2 separate regions of the Homo sapiens genome follow, and region 2 is linked to region 1. Evidence: fine-mapped expression QTL. A gene starts in region 1. The other region holds a variant in brackets. All regions are shown on one strand. Distances are between the middles of the regions. Region 1 holds the start of GNAS (GNAS complex locus). Region 2 has its middle 87 kb from the start of EDN3.

Evidence for each region. PIP is the estimated chance that this variant, and not a neighbour inherited with it, causes the effect. A credible set is the group of variants that fine-mapping cannot tell apart.
Region 2: its variant is the best candidate, but not a certain one, in a credible set for the expression of GNAS in esophagus mucosa (GTEx, PIP 0.71).

The regions. Positions count from the first base shown.
Region 1 is chr20:58,887,836-58,895,835 of GRCh38, forward strand. GNAS (GNAS complex locus) reads left to right here and starts at 3,586. Exons shown (of 13, transcript NM_000516.7): 1 at 3,586-4,030; 2 at 7,777-7,849. The coding sequence starts at 3,892. LOC101927932 (a long non-coding RNA gene) reads right to left here and starts at 975. Exons shown (of 5, transcript NR_126334.1): 1 at 939-975. RefSeq lists enhancers at 704-923, 7,548-8,000 and silencers at 1,364-1,643, 2,844-2,993, 3,054-3,553, 3,564-3,783, 4,654-4,743.
Region 2 is chr20:59,383,334-59,391,840 of GRCh38, forward strand. No RefSeq gene overlaps it. Among named protein-coding and RNA genes, the nearest start is that of EDN3, 87 kb to the left of the region's middle. The variant G/C (reference allele first, on the strand shown) is at 5,027.

The sequences.
Region 1 (8,000 bases):
GGCCTTGTACAATGGGGGCAGCAGTGTACCTGAAGGGGCCAAGAAAAATAATATGTGGCATCTTCATCTGTCACACCTTTTCTTACTCGAAGTGGAGCAAACTGGGGAAAAGGGGGGAATTTCAGTCATCCGGTTGAATGGCTAACAGTGTCTTTTTATTTTCAAAGCTAACTTAAAATGATACAAGTTTGCTCAAGGCCTCTGGTGGTATCAGCCGCCCCATACCCCTGGGGACTGTTAAATGTGTTTCCATTTATAGGTAGACTTTTCTTTTTTCTCCTTCTCCATCAAACATCTTAAGTTTCATGGGCTCTGTTAAGAAGTCAAAGAAAAAGTTGGAAGACAGTTTGTGGACTTTGCATATCTGGGCTTTCCGGGACGTAGGCCTGTGTCCCATCCAAGACACTGCTCACGTCTTAGCCTGATTACCTGGCCGCCTCGGCTCACCTGGGCACATGGTGAGCCGCGGAACTGGCAGGCACCAAACATTTATTGAATGAATAAACCGTATCCCAGCAGACACCATGGTGGCAGCAGATGACCTAACCAAGGTCCCAGGAAAGGCGGGCTGGGGTCAACTGCTTGAAAATTTAGTAACCCTGCTCCTAATCCCGTGCACTGCTATATCCTAGTGTGCGGCGGGACACTTGAGAGTTTTGAAAGAACCCTCAAACAAGTTCACGTTCCGTAAACTACTTTTCCCTCTGTTCCAGAGCCCCCAGGGCGCCCAGGCAAGGCCGCCACCTCTCCCACCTGGGAGGACGCCTCGAGCACCGACTCCACAGCCACGGCCACCGCTCCTCGGCTCCCGTGACACCGGCGCGCCTGCTGCTTCGAGCAGGGGAGGCTTTGCACTCCCATCGCACTTTTCTCGTCCGAAGATACGAAACTCCGTCCGGGCGTCGCAAATAATTCGAATTCGGCTCTCTGACACCTACCTCGGCGGGCGCGCGCCGCTGGGAGGGCGGGGTGGGTGGCTGGAGGTAAGGAGGCGCACAGCAGGGGTAAGCGCCGCCGTCGCACACTTTGCACGCCGCCCAGGGCTACACCACTCACCGAAAATTGGGAGGCAGGTCTGGGAGGCGGGGTTGAGCGCCCACCGCCTTGGGCGCGCCCGCGCCCCCCGCCATCGCGGCCCCCGCGCCCCCGGCCCACGCCCGCGCGGTCCCGGCACCGGCCTGCACCCCCAGGGTGCGCGGCGGCCCATTTGGGTGCGTCCCCGGTGGGCCGATTTTTCGCGCTTCCCCTTCGGTTTATAGGGGCCGCTGCTATGGGTCGGTCCTCTGAAGAGGCTGGGGCGTCATCGGGGCCGGTTAGAAGCTCTGCTCCCCGGCGGGGACACTCAGTCGCGTCGGCACCGCGGAGCGGGCTGCGTCAGGTGGCTGGCCGGCGCGGCGCTCCCCTGCTCTCTGGCTCCGGGCTGCGGCGCGGCGGCTGGAGCGAGCCCCTGTCCCGGCGCGGGGCGGCGGCGGGCGGCCGGCAGGCGCTGCCTTGCGTGTGAGTGCACCTCACTCACATGTAAGTCGGGGAGCGCCGGGGCCTCCCGCGGAAGTGCGAGTCGCCCGGCGCAGGCAAGAGCCGCCGGGTCCGGGACAAGGCAGGGGCGCCCGGGCGCCGCTGCCTTGCCCCGGGGCGCCTCCGGGCACCCCCCAATTCTCTCTCTTTTCTCTTCTCCATTGGCGTGCCCAAGAGCCAAACCAAGGAGCGCCTGAGGGTAAACAGACTCCTGCCATCCGCGCCTTTGCACTTTTCTTTTTGAGTTGACATTTCTTGGTGCTTTTTGGTTTCTCGCTGTTGTTGGGTGCTTTTTGGTTTGTTCTTGTCCCTTTTTCGTTTGCTCATCCTTTTTGGCGCTAACTCTTAGGCAGCCAGCCCAGCAGCCCGAAGCCCGGGCAGCCGCGCTCCGCGGCCCCGGGGCAGCGCGGCGGGAACCGCAGCCAAGCCCCCCGACACGGGGCGCACGGGGGCCGGGCAGCCCGAGGCCGGGGGCAAGCAGGGAGCCCGGGCCAGGCGCGAGCCGAGCTCCCCGAGGTGGCCGGGCCACCATGCTGAAGATGGCCATGAAGCTCAAAGCCCGGGCGGCGGAGAGCGAGAAGAAGACGGCCGCGGCGGCTGCCGAGGTGGCTGCCGAAGCTGCGGCGGCGGCTGCGGCGTTGGCCGAGCCGAGAGAGCCGCTCGCGCCGCGGAAGAGCGGGGACCCCGAGAAGCTCGCGAAGAACCCCAAGAACCCGGCGCGGGAGGCGCTCCCCGAAAAGTTCCTAACAGACAAGGAGCGCAAGAAGCTCGAGAAGAAGCTGCTGGAGCAGAGGCGAAAGGAGGAGAAGAAGAAGGAGAAGGAGAGGAAGAAGATGGAGAAGATGCTGAAGAAGAAGAAGAAGAAGGTGCCAGAAGCCCAGGAGGAGGCCCGATGCCCCGAGGCCGCCGCCGCCGCGGCCGCCGCCGACGACGACGAGGGCGCCGAGGAGGGCGCCGTCGGGGGCGCCGAGGAGGGCGCCGCCGCCGGGGGCACGAGTAGGGCCTGGGCTGACTGGGACACGGACTCGAGCGACGAGGACGACGCCTACTACGCGGCGCCGCGCGTTGGGGGCATCGTGTGGCGGCCCGGGCCGCTCAAGGCTGGCGCGCTGAGCGCCCACCTGCCCCTCGTGGTGTTCCTGGTCTTCTCGGTGCGCAGCCCCTCGTGGGTGCTCAACTTCCTGCTGCAGAAGCGCACGGAGCAGGGCCGCGGCTGCGGCTTCGTGTTCGGGGCGACCTGCTGCTTCCGAGTGTTCCTGGGCTGCGCCTTCTTCTCCTACTTGGGCGGCCGCGCCAAGCGCAGAGGCCGCGGGCGCTCCGGGGCCAGAGGCGCCTTCGGCTCGGGCCATGGCGCCCGGCGCCGGGGGCGCGAGGAGCGGCTCATCTAGTCAGACCCCCCACCCCGCCACCGCCACCAGACACCACCATCGCTGTGTAGTGTGGGTTTTTATTCGTGTTCGTGTGTGTGTGTGGACACATTTTCCTTTTCGGTTGCTCTGTCCTTTGGTTCGTGCTCGCCTCGCTTTTTCCACACTCCTGCTCTCTGGCTCTCTGTGTCTCTCGCTCTTTCGAAAATTTTCCTAAGTCCGGGCGCGCGCTCCCTCCCCTTCCGCCCACCCCAGCCCCTCGGCGGCGCCCGCGGGAGGGGGAGGAGGCCTCGGGGGCGCCGGGCGACGCGGTCCGGGGGGTGGAGCGTTGGCGTCGTGCGAGGGGTCGTCACTGGCGCGGAGACGCCCCCTCTCCCCCCTCGGCTCAGCCGGGCTGCTGCCCGAGCCCGGGGGGTGGGGGGCGTCTCCCCGGCCCGTCCCGTCCCCGGCCGGGCGCGGGCGGAGGGACCCCCTCCCCGGGCTCCCGGGGGGCCGCCTCCCTCCGCCGGCTCCCGCCCTCCCAGCCGCCGCCGCCGCCGCGGCCGCTCCTCGGCCCTCCTCCTCCTCCTCCTCCTTCCACCCCCCTCGCCGCCGCCGCCTCCTCCTCCCCCCGCCTCCCCCCGCCCGCCGCGGCGCTTTTGGCTCGGGGCGGCGGCGGGGGCCCGGCCGAGGCAATAAGAGCGGCGGCGGCGGCAGCGGCGGCAGCAGCTCCCGCAGCTCCTGCTCTGGTCCGCCTCGGCCCGGCGGCGGCCATCAGCCCCCTCGGCCTCGGCTCGAGGGGCGGGGAGCTGCGCGCGCCCCTCGGTCCGACCGACACCCTCCCCTTCCCGCCCGTCCGCGCGCCCCGCGGCCCGCGGCCCGCAGTCCGCCCCGCGCGCTCCTTGCCGAGGAGCCGAGCCCGCGCCCGGCCCGCCCGCCCGGCGCTGCCCCGGCCCTCCCGGCCCGCGTGAGGCCGCCCGCGCCCGCCGCCGCCGCAGCCCGGCCGCGCCCCGCCGCCGCCGCCGCCGCCATGGGCTGCCTCGGGAACAGTAAGACCGAGGACCAGCGCAACGAGGAGAAGGCGCAGCGTGAGGCCAACAAAAAGATCGAGAAGCAGCTGCAGAAGGACAAGCAGGTCTACCGGGCCACGCACCGCCTGCTGCTGCTGGGTAAGGGCGGGCGGGGGGCGCCGGCCCCGGCCCGGGGGCCCTCGAAGGGCGCCCCGCAGGCCGCGCGCGCCGAGCCCGCCCCCCGCCCCGGGCGCGCGCTCCCGAGCCCCCCGCCCGTTCGCGGGCTCTGTCTGTGGGGGGCGAGGCCGGAAGGGGGACCCAGGGGCGCGGATTCGGCCGGGCGGGGGCTCAAAAACGGGGCGGGGGGCCGTGGCGACGCGGGCGCGGGTCCCCCTCCCCCGGCCTGCCCGCTCAGTGTCTCTCTCTTGCTCTCGCTCTCGCTCTCCCCCTCTTTCTCTCTTTCTCTCTTTTTCCGCGAGGCCTACACGACGCCAGGGGTTTGGGTGCGTGTTGGGGAGGGGGAGGGGGAGCCCATGGGGCTCCGGAGACTGCGACAAAAAGAGGGTTTCGGGGACAGGAAACCGGGTGGCGGGTAGAGGGAGGGGGACCCGCCTCCGTGGGGTGTGAGATTTGTTGGGAGAGGGAAAGAGGGGAAGAAAGGGGCGAGGAGAGGAGGGGGTGACGCTGGGGGGCGCCGTGGTGGCGGAGGGGGCCTCGCCAAAGGGAGGCTTTGGCGGGGAGAAGTGGCCGAGGAGAGTGGGGGGGCTGGTGACATCAGCCCCTCGGAAAGGATCGGAGCGGTAAAGGTGGTGCAGTGGGGGGGAGGGGGCGCAAGGGAGTCGTGGCGCCGGAGTCGGGAGGGGGGCGGCGAGGGGAGGAGGGAGGGCGGTTGCCGCTGGGCGCGACTTGGTGCGTTTCGGGCAGGACCGACTGACTGTGTGTGCGCGGAGCAGACGTGTCCCGGGCCAGGCCGGGCCGTGGAAGGAGGAGAAGGAGAGTCAAATAAAATAAGACCACCCCCCAACACCAAAAAATGGATAGAGTTAGTACGAGAAGTGCCCAGTGAAGCCAAATGACACGTCATTTTACAGTGTGACCTTTTTTTCCCCTTCCAGACTTGCAGGCTTTTTCAAAAGCAGAGCGGAGAATTAATTGTAGCAGCTGCCCCCCCCACCCACCACGAGCAGCGCCCCCCCAACACTATTTTAATAAACCATTAAAAAAAACACATTTTCCTGCTGGCTGGCCACATTGAGAGTGCTTTGTGAAAAGAAAAAACAAAGACATTCACAAATCAGATAAAACTGGAGAATGACATTTGTCTGTAAATGGCTTCTTGGTCTGGAAATGGCGTGGTTTCTTTTTTTTTTTTTTTTTTTTTTTGTCCTCCTCAAGGTGGGAGGGGGGATTGAGAGTGCTCTAAGGAGACTTTTCCTCCAGGTGGGAAGAGATAAAAAGACATTAATTAGTTGTTTATCAAGTGACATTTAGTTGTTTGGTTTTGGGTTTTCTTTTTTTGATTGCGATTTTTCCTCTGATTAAAAAAATAATAATAAAATAAAAAAAGGTTAACTATAAGGAGATGGCCTTTCCTCCTTTTTTTTCTTAAGGTGCTGTTTTGGGGGAAAAAAATGTAATGAAATGACCAAAAGAATTACACAGCATTAATTAAAAATGGAAGTTTTCCACTTCCTTGATAATTTGGCTATCTGAATAAATTTGTGAATTTGCTAGGTTAAGACCTAGTTCGTGGTCACATTTCAACAAAACAGCTTGAGTATAAAGAAAATAATAAAAGGCTGTTCTTATTTATTTTCCTTTGGTGGCTTTTGGTTTGCTCTTTTTGCATAGGTCATGACTTTGTTCTCCTGGGTCCAGATTTATAAAAGCAGAAAATTACTAATTAAGTCAAAATAAGTGTCTTTGGTGTTTATGCATTTGCAATTTCAGTAATTAAATGGTACATGTGTTGCTGTCTTGTCTAAAACTTTTAAAGGCAGAATTATGCTGTTGGGATATTAGTATGCGTATAACTTGATTTCAAAGTATAAATCTGGAAAAGTCTAGAATCTTTTCTGTGAATGCTATCTCAGTACTACTTTAAGTCAAGTGTGATGCTAATGATATCTTAAAATTTCCAACACCTTTTGTGCAGTGATCACAAAGTCTCCACTTAATTTGAGACTGTTACTCAGAACACGCCTTGCGTCACGGGGGCTAATCTAAGTGTCCTAGTCTATATGACTACATTACATCATGATGTATTGATTGCCTCTGGCCTAGGAATCTGCAGCTTAAGCCAGTGACACAATATTTTGCATTTTTAAATGGTGATTCTCACCAAATAATGCCTCCCCACAAAAGAGGAAACCTAATAATGCCCCAAATCCTCTTTTTACTCCATCTTAATGACATAAAAATTAAGTGAATTAGAGAACTACAATGATCTTAAAATAATTTTTCAGCCACATTTCATAAATGTGGAAACTGAGGCACGGATCTGTTTTTGCCTATGAAAGATAGGTCCTGTAACTGTTACACAGTTTAACACTTCTGAAATTAGAATATTAGAGATCCTGCTAAATATTACGTATTGTTTCCTTGGCCTCTCTTAATAGTGCCATTTATATTTTTAATTTACCAGAGTTAGGCTCATTAAGATAGTGTTTGCTTTGAAATCAATGTTTCTGTGGAAACTAATTTTAACTTTTACAGATATTGATTACGGGCTTGTGAAAAGGCAAGTAAAGGAGGAATGCTGTGCTATCTGGGCATTAAAACAAAACAATACAATTAAAAGTTAAAAAGAAAGAAAAAGGTAATAACAGATTTGTGTGGAAGGAGGGCAAAAAAACTTCACACGTGGATTATCTGTTGGAGAATGTGCATTGCAAAAAAGATGCAAAATAGCAATCCTCCCTCTAGCTTGATGGAAATGTGTTTTTTCCATGAAACATATATGTATTTTTACAAATGAAAGATGATTTAAAATGGAGGCATGTGTTTCTACTCTTTGAGTTGGGAAGGGCTTGGAATCTTTCAAATTCAGTACTTCCCAGGGATAGTTTTCCTTTTGATTAAAGTTTTGTTCTTATGTTACTTTTTACTGTTGTTTTTGCAGTTTACCTAATGCTAATAGGGTCTCAGGAACTGTATTTGATGTTAAAGTGTGGTTTTTCCAGAAGATGACAGATAATTGATGGTCTCCCCTTTTCCTCAGCAACATAGTTGTACCCAGAGGGAATTTATCTTTAGAAAGATATAGTTTGTGAGGAAAGAGGAGGATGGATAAGTGGATAAAATGTAATGCAGTTTTAGGGGTGGATTTTTAAGTAGCCCAAGGGGTAGGAAACCTGCACAGAAAGAAGCTGCGTTGTGAAAATGTTGAGGAGGAAAGTGCTGCATCGCTACGTGATGTGGAAGAGACTGCAGTGTCTGGGCATTGTTGGGAATCCCGGGTATTTTAACCATGAAACATCTGACAACAAATTATGTGTCTAGATATGTTTATGTGTGAATGTTCATGTATCAGGGATTCAGTTTCACAGTTTTAACTTCAATTTTCTTGTTTACCCCACAAATGACAAAATTGCGTCATTCCTTCTCTTTGCCCCTTTCCAACACCACCCCACAATTTTTTAAACAATCAAAAGAAAAATTAAAACCAGCAAACCTTAAATTCTTGTTTGTTATTTGGATGGTGAAATACTGCAGGTAGACACTGAATTGGACATTGATTTCCTTTTCTCTGCGTCGAAATGTCAAGGAAAGTTGCAAGTCTGTGATTTTGTGTTTGGTTTTTTGCATGTTGCTTCTATGGAAAAACAAAACAACAACAGCAGACCTCCCTGCCCAAAGTGTTAAAATGCCTCCTTCATAACCTGAGACTTACTTTCATTTTCTAGGTGCTGGAGAATCTGGTAAAAGCACCATTGTGAAGCAGATGAGGATCCTGCATGTTAATGGGTTTAATGGAGAGTAAGTGTCAAATCTGTGCAGGGGGGCACCAAGTAAGAGGAACAGACTTTATACTAACCTTTAGGAAGTATAGGTGGGCTTTGGGGGCTGGGCAGCCAGTTTTCACTTAATTTTTCCTGATTTACATATTAGAAAATCCTGGGAAGGGCTC
Region 2 (8,507 bases), 500 kb after region 1:
CAAAGTCGTTTTCTCCTGAGGAACCATGCTAAAAATGCTGGTTCCAGGGCCCTGACAGAACCATGCTCTCAGGAGCCAGCACTCAGGGTGCCTGGGCTTTTTCTTAGAAGAGGTCTGGGATCTATTTCTGAAATAAGCTCTCTCAGAGAAATCTGACAGGTGCAGAATTTCAGAGCTACAAGCTGAGACAATGGCAGGGGCCTCCAGTAGCCGCCTGTCTCTGGGGCCCCTGGCCCACATGAGGCCCCTCAGGCCCGCACACGGTCTCCCTCCAGCTCACATGGCTCCACACACAGTCCCTCTGGCTCACACACAGTCCCTCTGACCCACACACGGTCCCACTGGCCCACACACCTCTCTTGGCTGCTGAGGTTTTGTGCTTCCACCAAGCCAGGGGACTGTTCTGTGGCCCTGGAACCACCGTGAAAGCAAACAACCCTCGGCTGTGTTGGGAGACAGCTCCAGCTCCTCCATCCTCAAATGTGAGAGCTGATGATTGGGGTGGAGGAGGAGGTGAGTGGGGAGGGGGTGGGGGAGAAGGAGGTGATGGGGAAGAGATGAGTGGGCAGGAGGTGAGCAGGGAGGAGGTGAGCAGGGATGAGTGGAGGAAGGAGGTGATAGGGAGGAGGTGAGTGGGCAGGAGGTGAGCAGGGAGAAGATGAGCAGGGGGGTGGTGAGCGGGGAGGAGGTGGAGGGGAAGGAAGTGATGGGGGAGGAGGTGGGGGGAAGGAGGTGATGGGGAGGAGGTGAATGGGCAGGAGGTGACTGGGGAGGAGGTGAGCAGGGAGGAGGTGAGCAGGGAGGAGGTGAGTGGAGTGGGGATGGGAGTGGAGTGGCGGGAAGGAAGTGATAGGGAGGAGATGAGTGGGCAGGAGGTGAGCAGAGAGGAGATGAGTAGAGCAGGGATGAGTAGGGGAAGGAGGTGATAGGAGGTGAGTGGGCAGGAGGTGAGCAGGGAGGAGGCGAGCAGGGAGGAGGTAGAGGGGAAGGAAGTGATGGGGAGGAGGTGAGGGGGGAAAGAGGTGGCGGGGGAAGGAGGTGATGGGGAGGAGGTGAGTGGGGAGGAAGGTGGGGGGAAGGAGGTGATAGGGAGGATGTGGGGGAGGTGGGGGGGAAGGAGGTGAGGCAGAGGAGGGGAGTGGGGAGGGAGATGAGTAAGGAAGTGATGGGGAGAGGGTGAGTGGGGAAGTGGTGAGAGGGGAGGAGGTGAGGGGGCAAGGGAGGCGATGCGGAGGAAGGAGGTGATGGGAAGGAGGTGAGTGTGTAGGAGGTAAGCAGGGAGGAAGTGGGGGGGAAGGAGGTGATGGGGAGGAGGTGAGTGTGTAGGAGGTAAGCAGGGAGGAAGTGGGGGGGAAGGAGGTGATGGGGAGGAGGTGAGTGTGTAGGAGGTAAGCAGGGAGGAAGTGGGGGGGAAGGAGGTGATGGGGAGGAGGTGAGTGTGTAGGAGGTAAGCAGGGAGGAAGTGGGGGGGAAGGAGGTGATGGGAAGGAGGTGAGTGTGTAGGAGGTAAGCAGGGAGGAAGTGGGGGGGAAGGAGGTGATGGGGAGGAGGTGAGTGTGTAGGAGGTAAGCAGGGAGGAAGTGGGGGGGAAGGAGGTGATGGGGAGGAGGTGAGTGTGTAGGAGGTAAGCAGGGAGGAAGTGGGGGGGAAGGAGGTGATGGGGAGGAGGTGAGTGTGTAGGAGGTAAGCAGGGAGGAAGTGGGGGGGAAGGAGGTGATGGGGAGGAGGTGAGTGTGTAGGAGGTAAGCAGGGAGGAAGTGGGGGGGAAGGAGGTGATGGGGAGGAGGTGAGAGGGGAGGAGCTGAGTGGGGAAGGAGGTAATGAGGACAAGGTGAGGGGAAAGGAGGTAAGGGAGGGGAAGGGGAGGGAAGGAGCTGAGCGGGGCAGAGCATGTCTCCTCTCTTTAAGCATCCTCTGTATTCTGCAGAGGCCAAGCAGTCTGGATGTTGGCCTTCCTCAGTGGCCCATGAAATAACTTTGCTCCCCAGATTCTGAGCATGGGTTAGAACACCAAGCCCCTGAGCAGCCCCATCTCTGGGCTAGGGCAGGGAGGGCAGGGTCCCCTTTCAGCCTCACACCTGGGATGCACTCGTAGGAACCCGCCAGGTGTTCTGCTCAACTTAAGGTCTCAAACACCAGCCCAGGGCATTGCCACCTTCCCACAGTCATGGTGATGACGAGCTTGGAGTCCTGCAGATGTCAAGGAGGGACAGGGCTGCACCCCTCACCCTAGCATCACTCCTAGGTCTGCAGGCCACAGAGGGTGGTGCTGGATTCGGTGGAGAAATGTGCATTTGCACTGGCTGTGCTCTTTACCGTGCACCTCTGGGCAAGTCCTCCTAGGGCCAATGGGAGGAATCGCAGAGGCTTAGACATGCAGCTGTCTTCACCGCATTCCTTCCTGCTCCCTCTGCTGTGACAGGCTGCTTCCTGCCTGGGAGCTTTGAGTTCAGAAAGCTGTGAGCTGTTTTCAATTCAAGGGGCAGGTTCTCTCTCTCTCTAAGGGTCCCTGTAGACATAGGAGGGAGGGCTGGGGGTGAGTTCAGTAGGGAGGCTTCAGACAAAACCCAAAGAGATGAGCTAGTTTCCTTCCTAGTTAGCCTAGGTGGCCAGCGCCCTGTGGCCACTCGAGCACGTGTCTCTCCTCGTCTGCTCCAGCATGGGGCTGAGACTCCTGTTCCAGGATTGGGGCTGTCGCTGGTCTCGCGTTCCTTCTTCTTGAAACTCAGACAACCCACCCCAACCTGACCTTTGGACGTGCAGGGCATCTGCTCAGAACAGGTTGTCCTCTTAGCCTATTGTTCAACCTTGCCTGGTTGTCCCAAACCTTGAGCCAATCTCTGTAGCCTCAAAGAATCTTAGACTTGGGAGGGAGGGTGGCCCGGAGGACCTCATGTCCTGCATTTGGGGACACAGACACAATCACGGCCTAATTAGACACAACTTGGCTCCCCTTCCATAAAGCTTGTTCCGTTTCACTTCCACCTGTGCTATTTTCATGTTTGTTTCTAAATAAATTCACCTCTTAAAAACATTAAATAGATTTCTTTACGCAGGGTCAGAAGTGGGAAATCATTACTCCTTGCCGTATTTAATAGACGGTAACTGAAAAACAGAAACCAAGTGTTACTAGCTGGAGACCCTTGCCTGAAGAGGATTCCGAGCCTGAGTCCAGCTTTGTTCACAAGGAAGGTTGTGAGTGTTCAGGGCCTGTGGATATATTAGACAGAGATTTTTCCTGTCATCGTAATGCCACGCTTTAGCAAATTCTGACCAAGTGCAGCCCTTCAAACTCCAGGGGGGAAACTGAGACACCAGGTAGAGAAAGGAGAGACACCAGGTCAAAGGGGAGTCTGATAGCTGGGCTCAGACACCAGCTGGAGCTCTTCTCCACACCTTTCCATTTCACTCACCCCCTCCCTCTGTGCCTCAGTTTCCCTCCTCTCCATTAGTCCAGGCTCAATAGCCATACAGGTGGCAGTGGTGGGGATCAGGTGTCAGAGAGGAGCAGCAAGCTCTGTCTCAGCTCCATGGTGGTCATTGGGGGCCCTCCAGTCCTCTCCCTTTGGCTGATGATGGCTGTCTCCACGTGTCAGCCACAGCAACCCTGTCCCCAGACACTAGCTGCTGTTGGAAGAGAAACATGCAAATTCCATCCATTCTCCTCAAACACAAAAGGGAATGTTTAAACTGGAGCCAGTCAGGGGTCGGGGGTGGAGGGAGTGGCCTCCATGAGGAATGCATGATAAATCCTCTCGCCTGGCTTCTTGGCTACATGAACAGTTTTATTTTTTCTCCCAACCCCTCCCAATTGTCCTCATGTTGGGCACTGTTTTGTGTGCCAGAAGGACAGGGAGAAGGACAGATGATGGCCCCACCGTCCATCACAATTCTGGCAACGCAGAAGGCCTAGAGAGGAGGCTCGGGGGGGCTGGGGTGCAGGGCTCCAGGGTTTGTGGGGAAAGCTGTTTGGGAGTCACCACAACATCCATCATCAGCTGTCATGTGCATGCTGTTCCACCTCTCTGTTTATTTTCTGAGCATCTCCAAGAGCCTGGGACACCAGGACAGGGCATGGCGGGAGGAGATGTTTGTGTTTCTCCAAAGAGAGCTTACCGTCTTGTGAGGTAGCAAGAGAAAATGCTGAGGAGGTGCTGATCATCAGGTGGGAGCTCCCTGTTTTGGTTCAAGAGGGGCCATAACAAAGGGTACAGTTAACTGCAGCTGTGTAGTGACAGGATAAGGAAGTTTCCTTCTTTCCTTACAAAGACAGACTAGGCAACAACGCGAGACCCCGTCTCTACAAGAAAATAAAATAAAATAAATTAGCCGGGTGTGGTGGTGCATGCCTGTTGTCACATCTGAGGCTGAGGCAGAAGGATGGCTGGAACCCAGGAGTTCGGGGCTGCAGTGAGCTATAATGGCACCACTGCACTCCAGCCTGGGTGACAGAGTGAGACCCTGTCTCTAAAAAACAAAACGAAGAAAGAAATGCCCAAATGTCTCACCCCCTGCACATTTTTAGAGTGCTTCTCAGTTTTTCACTGCCAACTTGGTGTCCCTAATGGGTCTTGGCAGTAGGGATGGAAAGAAGGGGTGTGGGAAGTCAGTAAGAGAAGATAAATTGCCCCAAAGTTATTAATTCCATTAGTTCATAGGGCCATACCCCTTTCCTTTCTCTCCTGAGCGGCACTTCAGCTCGGAAGGTACAGGTAATCCCTTAAGTGCTTCATCAAAGAGAATAAAGAACATGGAGCAATCACTCCTTGGCTGAGATATTAAAAGAATAAATTCAGGTTGGGTGCACCACCTTGGTTGTCAAAGAGAGGCCATATATCACACCTAAAGGACATTCACCAGTGTCAAAAAGAACGAGCTGTCTTTCTCCCCAAGGGAAAATTGCCTGTGGTGGAGGGAGATTCATTCAACTGGGTTTTTGCAAGTCAGGTCAAGAAGAGGAGGGTGCGACCAGGTTGATCACATCTGAAATATGATTGGCAGACAGCTAAGTGACCTCGGTGAGAAG[G/C]GAAGTAAATTACCTTTTGGTTTCAGGTTTTCTGAAAAGCTGTGAGCCAGGCCCTTTGGCACAAAGTACATGCTAGGGGGTCACCTCCATCATGGGGAGCATCATCTGGGGCTGCTGGGGTGGTCAGGACCCTCACAGGGATGCCCCTACCTGCTCAGAGAGCTGCTGGCTGGCCCAGAATGGGCGCTGGATGCTGCAGATGCAGTTGTCAACACAGATGTCCGTCATCAACGCCTGCCTGCCCTGGAAGCGAGGTTGGCAGGAGCAGCTTAGGGTCTGACCTAGGCCTTCCCTGGGAAACCTACCTTCATCCCAGCTCTGGTCTGCATTTTCCACAACAACCAGAGACCCTTTCCAAACACAGCTGGGAGGCCAGGCATGGTGGCTCATGCCTATAATCCCAGCACTTTGGGAGGCCAAAGTGGGTGGATCCTTTGAGCCCAAGTGTTCGAGAGCAGCCTGGACAACATGGCAAAACCCCATCTCTATAAAAAAATAAATAAATAAAATTAGCTGGGCATGGAGGTGTGTGCCTGTAGTCCCAGCTACTAGGAAGGCTGAAGCAGGAAGATCATTTGAGCCTGGGAGGCGGAGGTTGTAGTGAGCCAAGATTGTGCCATTGCATTCCAGCCTGGGTGACAGAGTGAGATCTGCCTCAAAAATAAAAATAAAAACACGACTGGGCCATATCACGCCTTTGCTTGAAATCTCTCCCATGGCCCGTGACTTTTCTTAGGGATAAAATTCAAGTGAACTGTGAATGAGTTATAACCCCAATACTATACCATTGCCCCAGGAGTCTCCCACAAGACAGAAGACAGCTCTAGGAGTTTCCTGGGGGCTGCTGTACCAAGTGACTACAAACTGAGTGGCTTATAACAAGAGAAATGTGTTCTCTCACCATTCCAGAGGCCAGAAATCCAAAATCAAGGCGTCAACAGGGCCAAGCGCCTTCTGAAGCCTCCAGGAGAGGCTCCTTCCTGGCCTCTTCCAGCTTCTGGTGGCTCTGGGTGTCCTTGGCTGGTGGCCGCATCCTCCCATCTCTGCCTCCATCCTCTGCCTCCGTCCTCACGTGGCCTTCTCCTCTTCTCTGTGTGTCAGGCCTCACTCTGCCTCTCTCCTGCAAGGATGGCTGTCATTGGATTTAGGGTCTGGCAGGATAATCCAGGGTGATCTCATCACAAGATTCTTCACTTAATCACATCCACAAGGACATTTTCCCCATAAGGTCACAATAACAGATTCTAGGGATTATGATGTGGACACATCTTTTGGGGGTTACCATTCAACCCATAATAGTAGCTGGTTGTTTAAAGCTGGGGTCCCCAGGAAGCAGACCCTAGACAAGGCTTTGAGGGCAAGCAGCCGCTCTGGGAGGCAATCCCAGGTAACAGCCCTAAGACCCCGAGAAAGCGGTAGAGAGGAAAGAGTGAAGTAATGCTCTCAGCGCATCACAGCAGCGAGTGACCCAGGCTGGTTCTCACCAGGGGGCTCTGGGAGATGGTGCCGGGCAGGCTGTGGGGCAAGGAAACTGGGGTCTCATTCAACTCCCACCATCCTTGGCTCAGGGCTGCTTCTGGGCATGAGAACTCCATGGTGCCTCCAGTTATGGGAGATCCCAGAGGAGAGTCGCTGGTGTTCACAGAAGGACATTGTTGGAATGTTCTGGAACTGAGTGCCAAGGGCATATGGGCACGTACAGCAGCATCCCTGACCCCAGTCCTGGCGAACTCCCCTTTCTTTCTTCCTCCGGGCTCCAATGTCACAGGATGCTGCAGAAGCCCGTGTGGGCAGGACCCAGCCCAGATCCTCAGGGCTTCCCTGGGACCCCACACGATTCCTCTCCATTCATAAGCTCCCCCTCCCAGCCTCTGCCTCCTCCAGCCTCCTGGATGGATCTAGGTGGTCTCCGATTGGTGTGCTCGGGACACCATATTAGTGGAGGGAGGGAGGTTTAGATCCTGCTGGGGACAGGGAGAGACAGAGGCCGATGGTGGTCAGAGGGGCCATTTGCTGTTGCCTCCTCCCCCTGAAGGTGCCAGGGCTAGAGGTAGCTGGAACATCACCTGGGCTTCAGGTAGTGGTGTGGCCTCAGCCTTCCAACCCCAAACCAGATATGCCTTTTCCCCTGAGCTGACAGTGGGAAAGTTGGCTCGGACCCAGAGGATGGAGTCCCGTCTGTGTGAACACAGCAAGCAGAGATACCTGCGGCCCTGGAGGCAGCTTGGTCCAGGAAGCAGAAGCCTGGGCTACACATGGTATGAACAGTGATCTGCATTTCATTAACTCTGCCCCCAGGCTATTGGCTGCCACCAAGTTTGCTGTCCTGGTGAGGAGCAGGCAAGGGGTACAGAGATGGGAAGCAGGGCCCCGTCTGGCATTTTTACCAGGGGTGACGCTGCTTCTTCACTGAGCCAAAGTAGAAACTGGGCAGCAGAAGGAAACGGTTCTCCCTAAATAACCTTGGGCAGCTCCTGAGCTGGGTACGTGGCTCTCCGATGCCACATCTGTTCTTCCTGCTTCCAGCAAAGACTCCAGCCCTGCTTTCCATCTGCGACCTTCAGAATGGGCTTGACTCCCCACCTGGAACCACAGTGGGTGCAGGACCCAGGCTGGGTAAATCAGAGTCAGCCATGGGTCAGAGATGGACACATGGCCCAATCAGGCCACTGAGTGTCAAGCCCTGGGCTCCTGGCAGAATCTGTGCAGAAGAATCTCTCTCTTTCCTCTGGCCGCTAACATAGGCGACACAAGCCTGGAGCTCTTGTGGCCCCTGTGGCCTCCTGAGCAGAGCTGGGCTGGGAATGAGGCCTCAGAGAGGGCACTGGAGCCGGGAGGTGGAGAGACAGGGGTCTGATGATATTCAGCAGCCAGATCCAGATGTGAAGCCCAGCCTCTCCTCCGGGACTTTCCGGTTACATGAGCCAACAGATTTGCCTGCTTCGAGTTGAGTTTCTGTCACTTGCAACCTAATGAGTCCTGACTATGGCAGTTACTTAACCTCTCTGAGCCTCAGTTTCTGAGTCTATAAAATGGGAATAAAAGTGGTACTTTATATGGTTGTTCTTACATACGATGCTCTGAGGATGTAGTTTGTGAGAAGGCAGTGGGAATGCAGTAAGTTTAATCAAGGTTTGTTGAGTGAGGGAAATTCAGGAAACTTCTGTCAGTCACTTTAGCCAATTTGAAGCTCTCCCTTTTTTGTGCAAAGACAAACTACAGCTTACTCAACTGGTACTAATTTATCTAGGTTCAGCATTTGATTTTATTGGGCCTTGGATTTTCATCTATTTTGTGTCTATCTCATTGCTCCAAACTAGTACAAGCTCCTGAATTGCCAGGGCCACTTCTTATTCCTCCTGGGATGATCAGGTTGGGCGGGCCAGGGTGCTGCTTTAAAAGTCAGATTTTGCTTCTTTAGTCTTCCCTATTGTTAATGAACAGTTTTTGGATGTCACTTTGTGCCTAGCTTGTTCTAAGT